3 separate regions of the Homo sapiens genome follow, and regions 2 and 3 are each linked to region 1. Evidence: fine-mapped expression QTL. A gene starts in region 1. Each other region holds a variant in brackets. All regions are shown on one strand. Distances are between the middles of the regions.

Region 1 (6,146 bases):
GTCCTACTTGTCAGCCCCAGCTAAATCAAGACAAACCTGTTTGATATTTGCTTAAGTCTTTCACATAAACCAGTAAAGGAAGATAAAGAGGTGAGATATGAATTGGAAGGAGCACCTACTAAGTAAACATGCCTTTACAGCTAGCAAAACCTCAGACAGTGCTGCCATTAGACACCTCTCTGTCATTCGGTAAGCACCTGGGAACAGACCAAAACCTTGTGGAAACGCCACATCCTTCAAGGACACTTCTAACAGAATTTCCACACAACAGAGATCCAGCTGGATTAAAAGAGCTAAATCCATTAAATCAGGTCTTGAGTGATCTAATTTTGTCAGCCTGGAAAACCCCTACTATTACTGGCCAAGAGTGTCCAGAAATGATTCATATGGCTAGTTAACCCAAAGGCTTTTTAAGGGCAAATTAACAAATTTCAAAGCAATAAACAAAAAGAAAACAAGAATCCTCAGGAATAATGTCACTTCCAAGCTACCAGTGGCCCAGCAAATCTACAAAGTTCTTAAAGGCAGTGTTTCCCAAACTTGCCTTACCGTAAGAATCACCCAGTGCATTTGTTAATAGATTTCTGGGCCCTCCTCCAGACAATAGCCCAAGAATCTCTAGAGGTGGAGCTCTGTATTTTTAACAAGCATCAGAAATTATTCTTAAGGTCCAGCACCTTTGGGAAACTAAACGGTCTGAGAGGCAGTATCACAGAGTTAAAAGCACATTAACTTCGAAATAAGACTGATGGGTTACAAATCTCACTTGTGGCCAGACGCAGTGGCTCACACCTGTAATCCTAGCACTTTGGGAGGCCAAAGCGGGTGGATCACCTGAGCTCAGGAGTTCGAGACCAGCCTGGCCAACATGGTGAAACCCCGTCTCTACTAAAAAATACAAAAATTGCTTGCAGTGAGCCGAGATCCCGCCACTGCACTCCAGCCTGGGCGACAGAGCGAGACTCCGTCTCAAAAAAAAATAAATAAATAAATAAATAAAAAATACAAAAATTAGCCGGGCGTGGTGGTGGGCACCTATAATCCCAGCTACTTGGGAGGCTGAGGCAGGAGAATCGCTTGAACCAGGGGGCGGAGGTTGCAGTGAGCTGAGATCACACCACTTCACTCCAGCCTGGGCGACAGATCAAGACTCCGTCTCAAAAAAAAAAAAAAAAAAAAAAAAAAATCCAAACTTGGCCACTTACTGGCTGTGTGACACTAGCCAGGTTATCTAACATCTCCGCAACTCACTTCATCTGTAAAACGGGATCATCACCTATTTGGACATGTTCGCAAAATTCGGTATGTTCAGAAAGCCCTAGAACAGTGCCCAGCATATGAAGCCAAGCAACAAATCACAGCTATTGCTACCTGCAAAACAGCGGCCAGAAACTGCTCAGAAAGTCTACAATGAAAATGTTCTACTTAATGGAAATTACAAAGGCACGGAACCACATTTCCAAGATAATCTAGGTAAAAGGCTTTTCTGGGCACTATGACCGCAAAGAACAAAGACTCAGTTTAGCGTCCAGTATTTTCATTGCAACAGTCCCCGATCCCACCCGGAACTACAGAGTTCAGGTGTCTGCAGGGTTGCAGCTTTGGACAACAAAGTAAGAGTCTTTCTTTCCCCAGTTCCTCGGTCACCACCACCTCCAGCTCTAAGGCCAAAAGTCACAGAACTGAGAGTCTGGTGGCAGCATCTTGGTGCATTAGTAGGAAATGGGACTCCTGGAGCCAATAAAGAGGGTGGAAAAGGCCTTAGGCAGCAAGAGAACTGAGGTACCGCTGGAGCGAAGGGAAATGAGTGGGAAGTTTCTGGAGCTGAAGACTGACATTCCCAGGGTAAGTGAGCCCAGACAAGGTGTAGCTGGGAAAGCACTGCCTCAGCTCAGCGACTAAAACCCCAGGTTGTAGAGTCCACTCTGCCAGTAACTCACAAAACACCTCCAGTTAACTCCTTCTCCCATCCGTAAAGTGGGAAATCGCCTCATCGGCTGAGGAGGAAATGAAGAGGAACCAGGCATATAATGGGTATGTATACATCAGTGCCCTTTGCGCCCAGAGGGTCCCGGGGTAAGAAATGTTCAGTGATGCTGGGAGGTCCAAGTCTGAGTCCTGAACAAAGCCAAAGCTGAAACTCCCATCTCTCAATGCCCTGGAGAAAGGGCACAAGCCAGTAAGTCACAGAGCAAAGTCCCTCCAACCTCCCCTCTGCCACTCGTCTCCCGCGTGCCCTCTGGCAAGTCGGACCCTACTCTTAGGCCTCAGCTTCCCCATCTATACAATGGGCTAATTGGCTCTAATGTCATCAGAATTGTGACCGCAAGATGCTCACATATGGGACGAGGGCCTGCAGAGACGCAGAAAGGAGGGTGGCGGTGAGTGGTGGGGCGGAACTGGAGGTGCGACCCGCCGGGGAGCCGGGGCGGCGCCTCGCGCTCTCCCTCCCTCCCTCCCACCGCGAGGGGCAGGGGCGCCGGCCCCCGGCGAGAGTCACGCGCCCCTCGTGCCCAATCACCGGCCTCTGCCAGGATGAGGCGGGCAGGCGGGGGCGCTCCGGGAGCCACGGCCGGCGCCGCCCCCACCGTCGTCCTCTGCCCCGCCCGCCTGCGGCAGAGCCGGGACCCTCCCCAGTCTCCGCTCACCTGCCAGGGCCGCCGTCGCCGCCGCCACCGCGGGTTAAACCGCAGCCGCGCCCACACTTCCGGGGTCCGCCAGGCCCGCCCCCTACCGGATGTGACCCCCTTGCAACGTCCGGCGCCCCAGTGGCGCGCGTGCTCGCCCCGCGACCCCGTTGGCCGCCCCGCCTCGCGCGCCTCTGAGTTACCACGACATCGTGCCACACACACACGCTCGCGGCCGCCCGGGCCACAACCACGGGAGCGCCCACGAGACCCCTCCAGCGCTCGCCGCACGCCTCGGCCCCGCCCCCGGTAAGAGGCCCCGCCCACTGGGCGGAGACCAGGCCGCTCTGGGCTAGTGCGCCGGCGCGGACGTCCGCCGCCTTCCGAGTGGCCAGCGAGGACTCGCTCTGTACACAGCTCGATCTTGGGAGGCTTCTCAGAGGGACCCAAAAGGAGGGGGAAGCAGATGGAAGCCCAGAACCTAGGAGGAGCCCCAGATGGGCTGAGCTCAGACTGAGGAGCCCCAAGGCCACCACACACTCATTTCCATTTACTAGTTAATCTCTTTCCCCCACCCATTCATTCTACAGAATTACCAGTATTCCCCATCTCCTCCCTTCCCCCCTGGAAACAGGAGAGTCCAGCATAATAAGGAAGCCCCCTCTGCTCTAACCCTTAAAAAAAGGAATCTGAAGTGACCTGATGTTAACTAATCAGGTGTTTTTTTTTTTTTTTCTATTCTGTTCCCTTTCCCACCTATGAAACCCACTGCTCTGCTATTTCCCAGGGGAATTTGAGACCAAATAAGTCTATTTACAATGGTAACTGATGTCAATGTCTAAAGTTTCCAACCTCTCAAAATCAAGAGGTTGACCAAAAGGGGAGAAGTGTCCAGTTTAGCCTAAAGTTGTCTCCTGGCGTATCTTAAGTTTGTCCTAAAGGTTTCTCCGTACATAGTGAACTGGATCCTACTCATACCAATCACAGAGTTTCAGCCAATCACAGGCAGCCACCTGTTCAAACCTTGTTCCAATAAGGCAAATGTCAATCTGTCATTGGTAGGGAACCAAACTGGATCCCTTTGCCCTCAGAAAGCCAAACACCGAAGTATCAGGTTTTTGTAGAGGGAAAGATTTGTTGCAAGTCAACTGGGAAGGAGACATGCTCAAATCTGTCTCCCCAAGCCAGGGGCTGTGACAGGTGTTATAGGCAGAGGGTAATGAGCAGTGATCTGATTGAATCTTGCAATAAGCAATGATCTGACTGGATCTTGCCATGGGATGATGCCATGGCTCAATCTGATTAGATCATGGCTTATACCATGTATCTACTTCTTAATTCTGTTCCGGTTCTTTGGTCTGAGCATTTAGGTTGCGCCTGTGGTTGCATGCTTGGTTCTTCTGGGCACGCTCAGGTTACATAACTTGCAACCTGGGATCATGGCAACTGAAAAAACAACTCACCACTTTATTACACAAAGTTGAACCAGATGGGGCTGGTTCTGCGCTTACATAACTGGTCCAACTGTTTCTGTACCTCGCTTCTGTTTTCTGGACATCTATTTCCTTTTTCTTTTCTTATTTTTAAATTTTAATGATTATTTTTTAATAGAAATGGAGATTCGCTATGTTGCCCAGGCTGGTCTGGAACTCCTGGACTCAAGCAATCCTCCAGCCTCGGCTTCCCAAAGTGTTGGAATTACAGGCATGAGCCACCACGCCCAACCTGCTTTCCGTTTTCTATCCCTAAATGTTATCCAACCACCTGGCAGCCTCAGAGTCACTCTGAACCTATTCTGGTTCTGGGGGCTGACTGATTCACAAATCATTATTTGCTCAATTAAACTCTGTCAAACTGAATTTGTCAAAACTCCTTCTTATAACAGAAGGGGTCCATGAAGAAGGTCAGCTGCTGACCCTTCTGAGACACTGGTGACTCCTTTGAGCGGGGGCATGTTGGTTTTGCAAACATTTCACTTGGTACAGAATGTCAGAGTGACTCCCATTGACAGCACCTGTTTGAAAGCTAGGTTGAAATTGTTTCTGAGGGTTAGGGAGGGCCAGGGCAGATGACCTTAATTTTTTGTCATAAGCCTTTTTGTGCTATGTGATTTTTTTTTTTTTTTGAGACGGAGTTTCTCTCTTGTTGCCCAGGCTGGAGTGCAATGGTGTGATCTCTGCTCACTGCAACCTCCGCCTCCTGGGTTCAGGTGATTGTCCTGCCTGAGCGTCCCAAGTAGCTGGGATTACAGGCGCCTACCACCACACCCGGCTAGTCTTTGTATTTTTAGTAGAGACAGGGTTTCACCATGTTGCCAGGCTGATCTCGAACTCCTGACCTCAGGTGATCCACCCACCTCGGCCTCCCAAAGTGCTGAGATTACAGGCGTGAGCCACCACGCCCAGCTGCTATGTGATTTTTAACTCTGCATGTGTTTCATTTCTGAAGGAAAATAATTAGGAAACACTATTGATGGATTAGCTTGAGTTTATATCCAGCAATCTCTTCACTGATTAGTACCATGTTGGAAGGTGGGACATGGACATGATGGCTGGAGCAAGTGTAGTCATCTTGAACCATGAGGCGACCATAGGAATAGAGGCCACACTAGTGGCACAACAAAATAGAAGGAACCTGAGCCCTGATTCCGTAAAGGACCATGACACCACTGGACGGCTGCCTCTGGGCTCTGTGTGAGAGGGAAATAAACCACCTCGTGTCACTGTTGTTTTGGATTTTCTGTCACTTGTGCCCTTTAAGTCTTAGACTCTACTTCTGGAAAGCCCCTATATCCTAAGACTGGGTAACTTCCCCCCTTGTATGTTATTCAAACACCCCACCCTTCAGCCCTTTCTTAGCATTCTCTACACTTTTCTGTAGTTGACCTTTCACTCCCCCTAGATAGTAACTTCTCTAAGGACAGGCAGAGACTCTATTTTATACATCATTTTATGCAGATGCTGGAAACTGCTAACGCTAAAAAAAAAAAAAAAAAAGAAGAAGAAGAACTTGTGAATGTGACAGACACGATGATTCTACCAAGGGTGTTGAGGGGAAATGACACACTGCTGCCTACGCTCTCTCTCCGTGTCCTAAGTCGTTGCCACATTATCTTCTGGGGCCACAGGGTGCTGGCCCTCCTGAATAACCAAAGATAGAGAATTAGGACGAAGGAGGGAGGAAGAGAAAATTGCAGGAAATTCAAGTCATGGGAGGGAAGTGGCATTGGGAAAAAGGGTGCTCTTTCTATTTGGTTCCTGCTATTTTCGACTTTGGGCCTTTTGCAACTTCCCTTGGCTCTAGCCCCTCCTCCAGTCCTGGTCTCTTATCACACATACACCTATGTTCCCACGTTCTATACCTCAATTACACCCAATTTCATTCATAAGTGGAGTGGCCCTGATTAATGCAAAATTTTTAAGAAGTTATAAACACAAACAACCCCAGTTACAGAAGGGGGTACCTTACTCTGTTTCTCACATTCACTTCATTCCTTTGTTCATTCCACATGCATTCACT
Region 2 (6,146 bases), 93 kb before region 1:
AGCGGGCGGATCACCTGAGGTCAGGAGTTCAACACCAGCCTAGCCAACATGCAGCCTGGCCGTCTCAACTGAAAATACAAAAAGTAGCTGGGCATGATGGCTGGCGTCTGTAATCCCAGCTACTCGGGAGGCTGAGGCCGGAGAATCCCTTGAACCCAGGAGGCAGAGGTTGCAGTGAGCTGAGATCACGCCACTGCACTCCAGTCTGGCGACAAGAGTGAGATTCCATCTCAAAACAAAACAAAACAAAAAGAAAAGAAAAAAGAAATATACTGACACTAACGATGGCTGATAAGCTAAAAATTCACACACACAAAAATCTCGTAATGTTTTAAGAAAGTTTACAAATTTGTGTTGGGCCACACTCAAAGCCGTCCTGGGATGCGGGTTGGACAAACTTGACCTAGACATTCTGCCTCTCTTCACTTGGGCCCCCCCAGATGTCTGGCCTGCGTAGACCAGCCTCAGTGCACGCAGCTGGAAGGTGCAGTGCCTGTCGGAGGCACCCGTTTCCCCACCAAGGGCCTCATGTTCGCATGCCCACTCCACGTTCACTCCATCATCCATCTCACTCCGTTTTCTATTGAAAGCACCCTGTCACCTTTCGCGTTTCCAACTCAGGAAACAGCAACCACGGAACAGAAGAAAAATCAAGATCCCATTTGCCTTGATGGATTCATTTCGATACAACTTCACTCAAGAGCTCGCCGCTTCCTGATTTCACATTTCACCATCAAAGACGAGGGCCGGGGCAGAGCTGGGGGATGTGGCCCAATCGGCAACATGCGTGGCTGAGCAACAGGTTTCTGCCAGGAGAGGCAACTCTGGGACCGCAGCTTCGGGATCCATTGGCCCATCCCAACAGCTAACAGAGGCAGAACATTCTGGAACATCACCCACCTGTCCCATCCTACAGGCTCCCAAGCCAACTGTGGCAAAGGTGAACCAAAGCCCTGAAAGAACTCGAAGTGAGACAAAGCCAGGCTCTCTGTGCTGAGGGAAGCAAGGCCCAGAGAGGGCAGTGGTGTGGCCACTGTCACACAGCGGGGCTCTGGGTCCAGTCCCTCTCTCTGATTTGGGCACCTCCCCCCTGCAGCAAGCATTGATGACTTCAGGTTACACGATACAGGAATGTCTCCATCCCTTTCCCCAAGGTAAGGAAAGGGCTCACATCAGTTAATTGCTCAAGCAACCCCAGAACCAGGATTATAACAAGGTGGTGCTCTGCCACGGGGCTGATAGAGAGGACAGGCCCTGGCCAGAGCAGGGGTGGGGCAGGGACTGCGGACCAGAGGTCCTCCCCAGAGCTTTTCATGAGCAACTACTAGGCCCTCGATAGAGAAGCCCAGCATGACCGAGAGGCAGTCTATGAATATGGTGACAATGCCACACTGTGAGGATAGAACCCAGCCCCGGCTAAAGCCCACTGAAAGTAAGAGCAATAATGCAATTCATTCATTCATTCATTCATTCATTCATTCGACAAAGTCCGTGCCAGGCTCTGTGGCTACAATCCTGAAAAAGACACAGTATCTACGTCTTCAGGTTGCTTAAGTAAAATCATTAGCACTAAAAAAATGTGGTATTCATACAATAAAGCACAACACAGCAACTAAAAAGCAGGAACTCCTGCTACACTCAAACACGGATGAATTTCATGGGTATAATGAGGAGCTGAAGAGGCCAGGCACAGAAGAGTCCATACGCTGCAATTCAAAACACTACTTACGGAAAGCTGGAGAACAGACCCATAGTGAGAGACCAGAACAGTGCTTAGCTCTTGGTGGGAGGGGGCGGCTGATAGGAGAGGCTCTAGGGAACCTTAATGGGGGATGAAAATGTTCTAGATCTTGAGCTGGGTGGAGGTTACACGGTGTATGTGTGTGTGGGTGTGTGGGCGTGTGTGTGCATGCAATATATATAAAAAAAGTTTTACATTTTTAAAAATCATTAACAGTGTTTACACTTCTTTTTCAGAGCTAACCTTACATATGCTTGATCAAATGACGAAAAGCTTCAGCCAGAAACAGTTTTGCCTGGGTTCTGAATCTTCCCTGAGCTCTTAAATTCTACCCAGTGAGCATCTAGGTTAAAACCTGGATAAAACCTGGATAAAAGATTAAAAAACTCAACCAAGTTTCCAAGTTCTTGTACTGCTTGGCTCTGTGTAGATCCGAGTTAACAAACAGGTTTCAATCCACATACCAGATCTGATGGTATGAAGCACTGATTATGGCTGGGCACAGTGGCTCATGCCTATAATCCCAACACTTTGGGAGGCCCAGGCAGGAGGATAGCTTGAAATAGGAGACTGGGGCCCTTGCAAACCCACTGAACTTCCTGGTGGTCACAGTGGACAGTCAGCCTGGGGAATAAGTCTCTCTGTGAAAAATGCAATGAACACAAGGCCCCTTTCCATGGCCTGTGCTTGGAACCAGCAAAGGAGTCGGCCATTCTGCATCCTGAGCACAGACAGAGGAGCTGTGGGTGACAGATGGTGCCTGCCAGGAGCAGGGATGCATGAGTCTCAGGTCAATGACAGATGTGGCTGGAGCCCAGTGTGGAGGCCCCAGGCTCCAGCGTGACCTAGTTTTCGAGATTGATGGGGCTGGCGTTGATGGCCTCCCGTGCACTCTCCTCTGTTCAGTGGGGGGCAGAGAGAACCCAAAACAGCAACGCCCTCCCCCAGCCCACACTTAGACAACAGGTGACTACGAAAGGAAGGCAGGAGGGGAGGTGGGGAGGGGAATGGCAGGCGGGCCAAGTTGGGTGGGCTCCGGGGCAGATATGTCTGCCTCTCTTCTCTGAGGCACGACTGAGGGGCAGAGAAAGGCCAGGCAGTGGCAGTGACTTCACGTGCGCTGCTGCCAACGACCCCCATCCCTCCCAATCCACCGTGGTAACACCAATATGTTCCCAGCTTGGATCTCTCTCTCTCTCTCTTTCTCCCCACCCACCTTGGGCCCCAGACTCATACCCAGCCCTGTCTGCTCAGCATCTCCACTTGGGTGTCCGAGAGCATCTCAAGTGTCATATGGCCAAAAGCAAACTCCTGACCATCCCTATCTCAAGACAGGGCTTCTCCATCCTTCCAGGTGCTCTGGCCAAAAACTGTGGTGTCACCTGTGACTCCTCTTTCTCTCACATCCCAGCTGCAATCCAGCCAGAAATCCTATGGGTTCTGCCTTCGAGATGTAGTCAGACTCTGGCCACCTCCCACCC[C/A]CTCCACTGCGACCGCCCTGATCCTGGCCACCGTCCTCTCTGCCTCCTCACCTGCCTTCCTGCTTCCTGCCCTCATTCCCTTCCGGGTGTTCTCCCTGCTGGATGTGGAGTGATCCCATGTAAAAGGCACCCATGACGTCTCCCACCTCACAGCCTACTGCTCTACCTGCTCACACCACTTGGGTCACGCTGGCCATCGGACACACTGGACAGCCTCAGGGCCTTTGCTGGTCCTGGGCTGGAAGGCTCTTCCCCTGGAGAGCCCTCAACTCCCTTCCTCGCCTTGGGTGGAGCCTTCCTGGACAGCCCTATTTAAATCGCCACCCCTCCCTCCCCCTTCCCCCTTCTCTTCTCCTGTTTTAGTCTCTTCCGTAGCATTTATTGCCACTGGACACACAATATATTTTTACTTATTTATTTTGTTCATTGTCAGTTGCCCCAGGTTAGACTGTAAGGAGCATGAGGGCAGGAAAGTTTGGGGTCTGTTTTGTTCTTGCCATGTCTCCCAACACCAAGGACAGTGCCTCGTGCATAGCAGGCACCTAGTAAGTTATTGAATAAGTGAATGAATCAGGATCAGTGACCTCCCTCTGGAACCACAGGCTTGACAGCAAAGCTCTCCCCCTTTCTTCTGGCCCCTCAGTGCCCCCCTCAGGGCAGAACTCCAGGTACCCAGTGTGTCTCCAGCAGGTCCCTGTGTCCCCTTAGTGGTGGGAACAAGAGATCCATCAGTTCCAAGCCTCAAGATGCCTCTTGCCTCCTTCATCATCTGTCTCCCTCACATCTGCCCTGCCTTTGACAATGTACAAATAGCTTTGAAGCCCTGTAAGGTTTCAGCATCCTTGTTGCGTAGGCTGGGAGAGCCAGGCAACAGCCCAAAGACACACAGCTTAGAAGGGAGGAGAACACCCATCCTGACAGCAAGCTTGGTCATTGCTCAGATTCACCCTGTCCCTACCACCTGCTTCCTCCAGGCCAGCACTGCAAGCCAATCGTGATGACAACGACGGTGCTGGATGGAGGACAGACAAAACCAGTGAGGCTCTTGCAACAGGGGAAAATGAGTCCACCAGCAACAAGAAGACTGGGACTGGGGAGGGGGTGCAGAAGGGATTAAAGGGTTCAAGGGGGCCTGGGAGGACAGAAGGGGATTCTGTTTGGGTTCCCCTCAACCAACCTAAAGCAGATTCTGCTGAAAACACAGGAGGCAATAATACCCTGAGCTTTTTAAGTGCATGTCCCCATGACCCCATAGCCCTACACCTAGAGGTTTATTGCAAAGCCATCAGGGAAAGAGTGTACACAGAACAGTGAGGGTTAGCTATACGGGGTGCTTGGCAGAGCAGTGCTGGTGAGAGGAGGACAATGGAAACCTTCTCAGTGTCCCCAGATAGGGGAATGGGATTTATACGCCATGACTCCCTTGAAAACAATGAATGTGCACCTACATTTCCTAACTCGGAAAGCCGGCAATGACATTGAGCCTAAAATTCTGTGTTGTATGGGCCCATTCGTGTGTGTGTGTTTTTTTTAAATGTACGTGTTTGCAAAGAAAAGTGTCTAGGGCCAGGCGTGGTGGCTCACACCTGTAATCCCAGCACTTTGGGAGGCCGAGGTGGGTGGATCACAGGGTCAGGAGATTGAGACCATCCTGGCTAACACGGTGAAACCCCATCTCTACTAAAAAATACAAAAAATTAGCTGAGTGTGGTGGCGGGCACCTGTAGTCCCAGCTACTAGGGAGGCTGAGGCAGGAGAATGGCATGAACCCGAGAGGCGGAGCTTGCGGTGAGCCAAGATCGCACCATTGCACTCCAGCCTGGGCAACAGAGCAAGACTCCATCTCAAAGAAAAAAAAAGTGTCTAGGAGGAAGTATATCAGGTGCAGTAATGGTGACTGCTGCTAGTGAGCCTAGAGGGAGCTCACTCTCTTTTTCATTCTTTTCTGTATTCTATTGCTGTGGGATAATTAAGGAATCAGAGAGACTGAGGGGTTGAGGAAGAATTATGTAATTATTTAGGTGCACCAAACCAGTCGGATTAACATCCAAAGGACTGAGCCCCAAACAAAGAGTCCGGTTACCTTTTAAGCATTTTGTTGGGCGGGGGCGGGGGGGGTAATCTGTGCAGAGGGAAGCATATTACAGAAGTGAGAAACAAAGACAGTTATTCAACTGAGACATGCATTACATCATTTCTTACTTTTTAAGGAACAACATGTTTTACGACTTGAGATTATCTGTCAAGTGACCTTGAAGCTGCACAGCTAGAGAAACAGAGTCTTCACAATGCCTGGGAAAGGGAGAGATAAGTCTCACTGGCCACAGAAAGAAAAACAGGCAGTTAATTTTAAAGGACTCCAGCCCTTTCTCTTCCTCAAGGGGAACTGGGTTTTCTTACATTCAGCTGAGTTTTTGATTACACAGTTTTTAATTTCTTTTCATTCCTGTTCCACTATGAATAATTTTACGACTAGCATATATCAATATTTTTAGTAAATAAAACAGTAAAGGTGCATGCATTTTAGAAAAACAAATTTAAATGCTCCAGAGACTTCCCCGATGGGCCAAGCCCACCAGGGCCCTCTCTCCAGCCAGACCCAGCACCTGCCCACTGAAGGCAGCCTCTAAGCCTCCGAAGCTGAGGGCCTGACACCTCCATCCAAGCCTCTGTGTGTGACTGAGGGGGGAGAAACAGAGAGAAAAGAACCACTTCCTGCAGAGCTGGTGGTGGTGGCGGCTCTGAGGGAGGAGAGACACCCACCAGAGGTGAGGACTAGAGGCTCCTTCAGCAAATGTGAACGTGACTCAGGGGGCCACCCTGACTGACAGGGCAGTGTGGCCCTCACGGTGACCAGGGCTCAGCCGCACTGTCACTGCCATTAACCAAAAGCCGGTGATCACAGGCAGAAGAGGCCTGCGAGT
Region 3 (6,146 bases), 22 kb after region 1:
TAGGCAGAGCACAGAGTAGTGAAGCTGTTCTTTATTTTGTGTGCATGTGTGTGTATGAGATGGAGTTTTACTCTTGTTGCCCAGGCTGGAGTGCAATGGCGCAGTCTTGGCTCACTGCAACCTCTGCCTCTCCAGTTCAAGCGATTCTCATGCCTCAGCCTCCCGAGTAGCTGAGATTACAGGCATCCACCACCATGCATGGCTAATTTTTGTATTTTTAGGAGAGATGCGGTTTCACCATGTTGGTCAGGCTGGTCTTGAACTCCTGACCTCAGGTGATCCACCTGCCTCGGCCTCCCAAAGTGCTGGGATTACAGGCATGAGCCACCATGCCCGGCCTTCTGTATAATATCATAATGGTGGGTACCTATCACACATTTGTCCAAACCCATAGAATGTTCAATGCCAAGAGTGAATCTTAACGTAAACCATGGACTTGGGGTAATAATGAAGCATCATCGTAGGTTAATCAATTGTAACAAATGTACCACTCTGGGGCAAGATATTAATAATGGAGAGGCTGTGCATGTGAGGTGGGGTGGCATGGATATATGGGAAATCTCTGTACCTTCTGCTCAATTTTGCAGTGAAGCTAAAACTGCTCTAAAAAGTAAAGTCTGTTTTTTTAAGTAGGGGGAGCATGGAGAGGTCATTTGTCCTACAGGATGTCCCACGTATGGGATTTGAATGATTGTTTTTTTGTTCCTTTACCTACATTATTTCCTATGCCTGGTCATGAGATCTAGACTTGAATTCAAAATTTTAATTAAAATACTTCTTAGGTAGTTCCATATATTCCCTATTGTATCACATAAAGAAGCACATAATTTCTGACTGTCTCACTCTTACAGATGCTAGATTAATCCGCGGGTCCTGGTGTTATCAACCTAATCCATCCAATCCTGAACTTACCCTTCAACCTTCCACCTTACGGTTTTGGCATCTGTTGATGATTTTTGCCCTAGATCCATTGTTTCATTAGAAGTTGCAAAACAATGAGTTCCAAATTCTACCATTCCTTCTGAATTTAATCATTGGAATTTATTATTTATTTATTTATTTATTTATTTATTTATTTTGAGACAGGGCCTCGCTCTGTCACACAGGCTGAAGAGCAGTGGCACCATCATAGCTCACTGCATCCTCAACCTCCCAGGTTCAAGCCATCCTCTTGTCTTGACTTCCCAAAGTGTTGGGATTACAGGTGTAAGTCATCATGCCTGGCCAGGATTATTGGGTTTTTAATAAAAGAGGAGACTCTGTTAACCTTGTAACCTTTGCAGAGAGGCAGAGAGGAACCAGTTAGAGCAAGAGTTGCCATCGCTATAGGTCCCCCTTGCTTTTTTTTTTTTTTTTTTTTTTTTTTTTTTTGAGAAAAAGTCTTGCTCTGTCACCCAGGCTGGAATGCAATGGCACAATCTTGGCTCACTGTAACCTCTGCCTCCCGGCCTCAAGCGATTCTCCAGCCTCAGCCTCCTGAGTAGCTGGGATCACTGGCATGCGCCACCATGCCCAGCTAATTTTTATATTTTTAGTAGAGACAGGGTTTTGCCATATTGGCCATGCTGGTCTCGAACTCCTGGCCTCAAGTGATTCACCCACTTCAGCCTTCCAAAGTGCTGGGATTACAGGTGTGAGCCGCCACACGCAGCCAGGAATTTTTTAATAAAACAACTTTTTTTCCTTATTCCTTAAACTGATGTTTGAAAAAAAACTTTTTAGTCAACTATTTGTGATTACCCAAAATATAGTTCATATAGAAAAAATTAACATAAGTATTGATTATAGTTTCCCTACGTCTACTAATAAGCTGATGTCCTGTGATATCCCATGTTGACAAATTTGGGCAGTAGGGGTAAAACTGACACAGAACCCCAGCCAGGCGCTGTGGCTTATCCCTGTAATCTCAGCACTTTGGGAGGCCAAGGCAGGAGGATAACTTGAGCCCAGTTCAAGACCAGGCTGAACAACATGGCAAAAGCCTGTCTCTACAAAAGAAAATGCAAAAATTAGCTGGGCATGGTGGCGCATGCCTGTAGTCCCAGTTACGAGGAAGGTTGAGGTGGGAGGACTGCTTGAGCCAGGGAGGCAGAGGTTGCAGTGAGCAGAGATTGATTGTGCCACTTCACTCCAGCCTGAGTGACAGAGGTAGACCCTGTGTCAGAAAAAAAAAAAAAAAAGATACAGAGCCCCCAAGTCACTTGCAACCCAACCCTGGGGATCAGATCAGCCTTGGCATTGCTCTACCCAAGATGGGCACAGACTGGATCTGGATCTTGTATGGGAACATGAGGGCCCTGGAAGTCCCAGAAGGAGCCACACCATTCCATTTTCTTTCCTTCGCCTGGAATAATGCCAGTTTAAGAAGGTAGCTCTTCTCATCTCAGGCAAGCAGAAGCTCCTAGTGGTTCTTTTTTTGTCTCTTTTGATTAGCAATACACTTTAATTATTTCTTTTTATTTGGCAGACAAAATGTTTCCAGCCTGGATCCTATCAGGGGAATTACAGCGGGTGCTCATCAAGTGGGAGTTCTCAGTAAGTCAGTTGGTTTATCTGACCCTGGTAGTCTTTCTTTACAAGTGGAAGGAAAATCAATGCATTCCATGTGTTATTCATTCAACAAACATGAATTGAACACCCTCCCTTTCTACCCCTTTTCTACTCTCCCTTTCTAGCCCTCTACACCCTCCCTTTCTAGCCCCCTTTCTACTCCCAACTCTAGGCCAGAAATAAAAACCTACACATCCCACAGTTGCTTAAGTTTTGGCCCACACTATGTTTCTTGAAAAACAAATTAATTAGCTGCTAACAGCTAAAGATCAGGGATTTCACATAAATATCCAGACTTTTGACTTTTTATTTTATGTGTATATATATAAAATGTGTGTTTATATATATGTATATGTATAAACACACATCAGTTTTCATCCACAGTTCCTGGCTCATAACCCGCATAGCCCTTGTTACTGTCTTTTGTTATGAGGTTGGAGTGTGTTAGGCTTCTAACCAGGCCCCAGAAAACAGAATCTTTCTCCCTGACCTCCTTCGGCCTTCTTTTCACCTGCTCCTTTTTCTCTCTAAGGCAGGCCTTAGCACCTAAAAATATATTCTAATCTTCCCCTGCCTCTGTTCATAAAGAAATTCTCTGACTGGCCGACTGCAGGTCATAAAACTCCACTTCAGAGGAGTCCTGCCCCATACCCTGGAGGAAGGAATGCTGCACAGAGAGACCAAGAAGAATCTCAACAGACGGGCATTTCTGGGCTTCTCCACTCAGTCTATCAACACTAGATCATTCCCTTTTTGTTCAATCACACTTTTTTTTTTTTGAGATAGAGTCTTGCCCAGGCTGGAGTGCAATGGCGTGATCTCAGCTCACTGCAACCTCCACCTCCCAGATTCAAGTGATTCCCCTGCCTCAGCCTCC[C/T]GAGTAACTGGGATTTCAGGTGTGCACTACCACGCCTGGCTAATTTTTGTATTATTGAGAGGTGACAGCGTGCTGGTCAGGGTTTGCACCCTTAAATGTCTGTCTTTGTCTTCAGGGAGCCAGGGGAAGATTTCCACGCCACAGGCTGGAGCTGGTGTCTATTAATGATTCAAACTTTTTTTTTAAAGACTCATCAAGTGCAGCGGTGAGAGGGAGGGAGTTAAACTCTTTTGGAGGCAGGGCTCATGCCTGTAATCCCAGCACTGTTGGAGGTCAAGGCAGGCGAATCACTTGAGGCCAGGAGTTCGAGACCAGCCTGACCAACACATTGAAACCCAGTCCCTACTAAATATACAAAAAATCAGCTGGGCATGGTAGTGCACACCTGTAATCCAGCTACTTGGGAGGCTGAGGCATGAGAGTCACTTGAACCCAGAAGGCGGAGGTTGCAGTAAGCCGAGATCCCACCATGGCCCTCTAGACCGGGAGACAGAGTGAGACCCTGTCTCAAAAAATAATAATAATAAAATAAATAAATAAATAAATAAAACTCTTTTTGAGGTTCTATATTTGTAACCTGTGCCCACAGCATGAGGATGAATTCTGATCTTCAAGGCAAAACCCTGGCCAGGCATGGTGGTGCATGCCTGTATTTGGGGAGGCGGAGGTGGGAGGGATCCTAGCATTTGGGGAGGCGGAGGTGGGAGGGATCGCTTGAGCCCAGGAGATTGAGGCTGCAGTGAGCTGTGATCATGCCACTGCACTCCAGCTTGGGCAACACAGCAAGACCCTGTCTCTAAGAAAAATAAAATAAAATAAATGTAAATAACAAAGCAGAATTCTGCCCCCTCCACTTTTATCCTTTACCAACTGCAGACCAAAGAGATTCATAAACTTTGTTGAGAGAGAATGTGGAGAAAAAGATGGTTCTTATCAAAATTAAAAATGTCTCTCTTTAAAACGTTTTTGGATTGTAGGATCTCTGTGTTGTATGGAAGCTCGAAAAGATAACTGAGTATATCATTCCCAATTCCGGTTTTGCATCAGAGTCCTTAAGCTTGGGAGGCTTTTTATTATTCATGAACATTGCCTGGGATTCATTTCTAATCTTCTGAAAAGAATCTCAGCCTATTCTTCTCATTATTTTTATGCTGTTTCTTAAGAAGTGAGAAGAAATTACAGCGAGTGACTATAACGTCTATCAGTAGATTGTGTTGAGTAAACGTCCTTAGTTCTAGGTGGTGTCATTAGCCTACAGTTTATAATTTGGGGAAAGTGAAAAAAGCATTAAAGCATATTAAGAAATAAAACACTTTTTTTTTAAAAGACAGCTTTTGGACACTTCTTGTGAGTGTAAATTGATACAGCCTTTTTGGAGTTGATTTGTTCTTAAAATGTGTATGGCCAGGCCGGGCGCGGTGGCTCACGCCTGTAATCCCAGCACTTTGGGAGGCCAAAGCGGGTGGATCACCTGAGGTGGGGAGTTCAAGACCAGCCTGACCAACGTCAAGAAACCCCATCTCTACTAAAAATACAAAATTAGCCAGGCCTGGGTGGTGCATGCCTGTAATCTCAGCTACTCGGGAGGCTGAGGCAGGAGAATCGCTTGAACCCAGGAGGCGGAGGTTGTGGTGAGCCGAGGTCGCACCGCTGCACTCCAGCCTGGGCAACAAGAACAAAACTCCGTCTCAAAAAAATAAAAAAAATAAAAAGTGTGGTCTTTGTCCCAGCAATTTTGCTTTCAGGATTTAGGCTAACTCAATGGTCAGAAATGCCCAGAAACATATATGAGCAGGGATGTAATCTTCAGAGTCTCTTACACAAGGGAAAATCCGGAGCCTCCCAGTGTCTGTTAAGCAGAGTGCCCCAGCATAGGTAGACAATCATGCAGCCATCTTTTTGGTTTTTTATCTTTTTTGTTTCTTCTTTTCTTTAAAAAAAAATTTTTTTTTTTTTTAGAGTAACAGGGTCTCAATATGTTGCCAAGGCTGGTCTCAAACTCCTGAGCTCAAGTTATCCTCCTGCCTTGGCCTCCGAAAGTGCTGGGATTACAGGCGTGAGCCACTACACCCGGCCTTTTTTTTATTCTTTTATTTATGTTTTTATTTTTTTGAGACAGGGTCTCACTCCGTTGCCCAGGCTGAAACGCAGTGGCATGATTACAGCTCACTGCAGCATCAATCTCCTGGGTTCAAGCAGTTCTATCTCACCCTCCGGAGTAGCTGGGCCTACAGGCACGTGCCACCACGTCTGGCTAATTTTTTTGTGATTTTTTTTGTAGAAACGATGTCTCATCATGTTGCCCAGGCTGGTCTTGAACTCATAGGCTCAAGCAATCGTTCTGCCTCAGCCTCCCAAAGTGCTGGGATTACGAGTGTGAGTCACCACACCTGACCTTTCCTAAAAAATATTTTTAATTTGTTTTTTTCTGCAGCCATCTTAAGTCACATGACCCCAGTCTTGCTGAGCGCACATCAATGTTAGACTTTCTGCATGTGAACAGTGTGACATTGCCCATGTAAGCAAATGTCCTTGGAGACACACACTAAAGATTTAGGAGCAAAGGATCATGATGTCTGCAAGTAGCCAGGCATGCGGGGCCCAGAGCCTTTCTGCCCGAGTTCAAACCCCAGCACTGATATGTACGAGTCACGTGACCTTGGAAAAGTTTGTTTCTGGGCCTCAGCGTCCTAATCTGTAAACTTGGGATAAGAATAGT

What was found.
Region 2: its variant is fine-mapped to the expression of VPS37C in whole blood (INTERVAL, PIP 0.93).
Region 3: its variant is fine-mapped to the expression of VPS37C in whole blood (TOPMed, PIP 0.96).

Annotation. Positions count from the first base shown.
Region 1 is chr11:61,158,743-61,164,888 of GRCh38, forward strand. It overlaps VPS37C (VPS37C subunit of ESCRT-I), which reads right to left and starts at 2,684. Exons shown (of 5, transcript NM_017966.5): 1 at 2,649-2,684. RefSeq lists enhancers at 2,147-2,740, 2,741-3,333, 3,074-3,123, 3,134-3,273 and a silencer at 2,324-3,083.
Region 2 is chr11:61,065,454-61,071,599 of GRCh38, forward strand. LINC02954 (long intergenic non-protein coding RNA 2954) reads left to right here. Exons shown (of 4, transcript NR_186234.1): 4 at 1,978-2,144. The region is part of intron 1 of LOC105369325 (a long non-coding RNA gene); the gene reads right to left. Among named protein-coding and RNA genes, the nearest start is that of LINC02954, 13 kb to the left of the region's middle. The variant C/A (reference allele first, on the strand shown) is at 3,223.
Region 3 is chr11:61,180,636-61,186,781 of GRCh38, forward strand. LOC124902678 (a long non-coding RNA gene) reads left to right here. Exons shown (of 4, transcript XR_007062691.1): 2 at 2,468-2,535. Among named protein-coding and RNA genes, the nearest start is that of PGA3, 20 kb to the right of the region's middle. The variant C/T (reference allele first, on the strand shown) is at 3,428.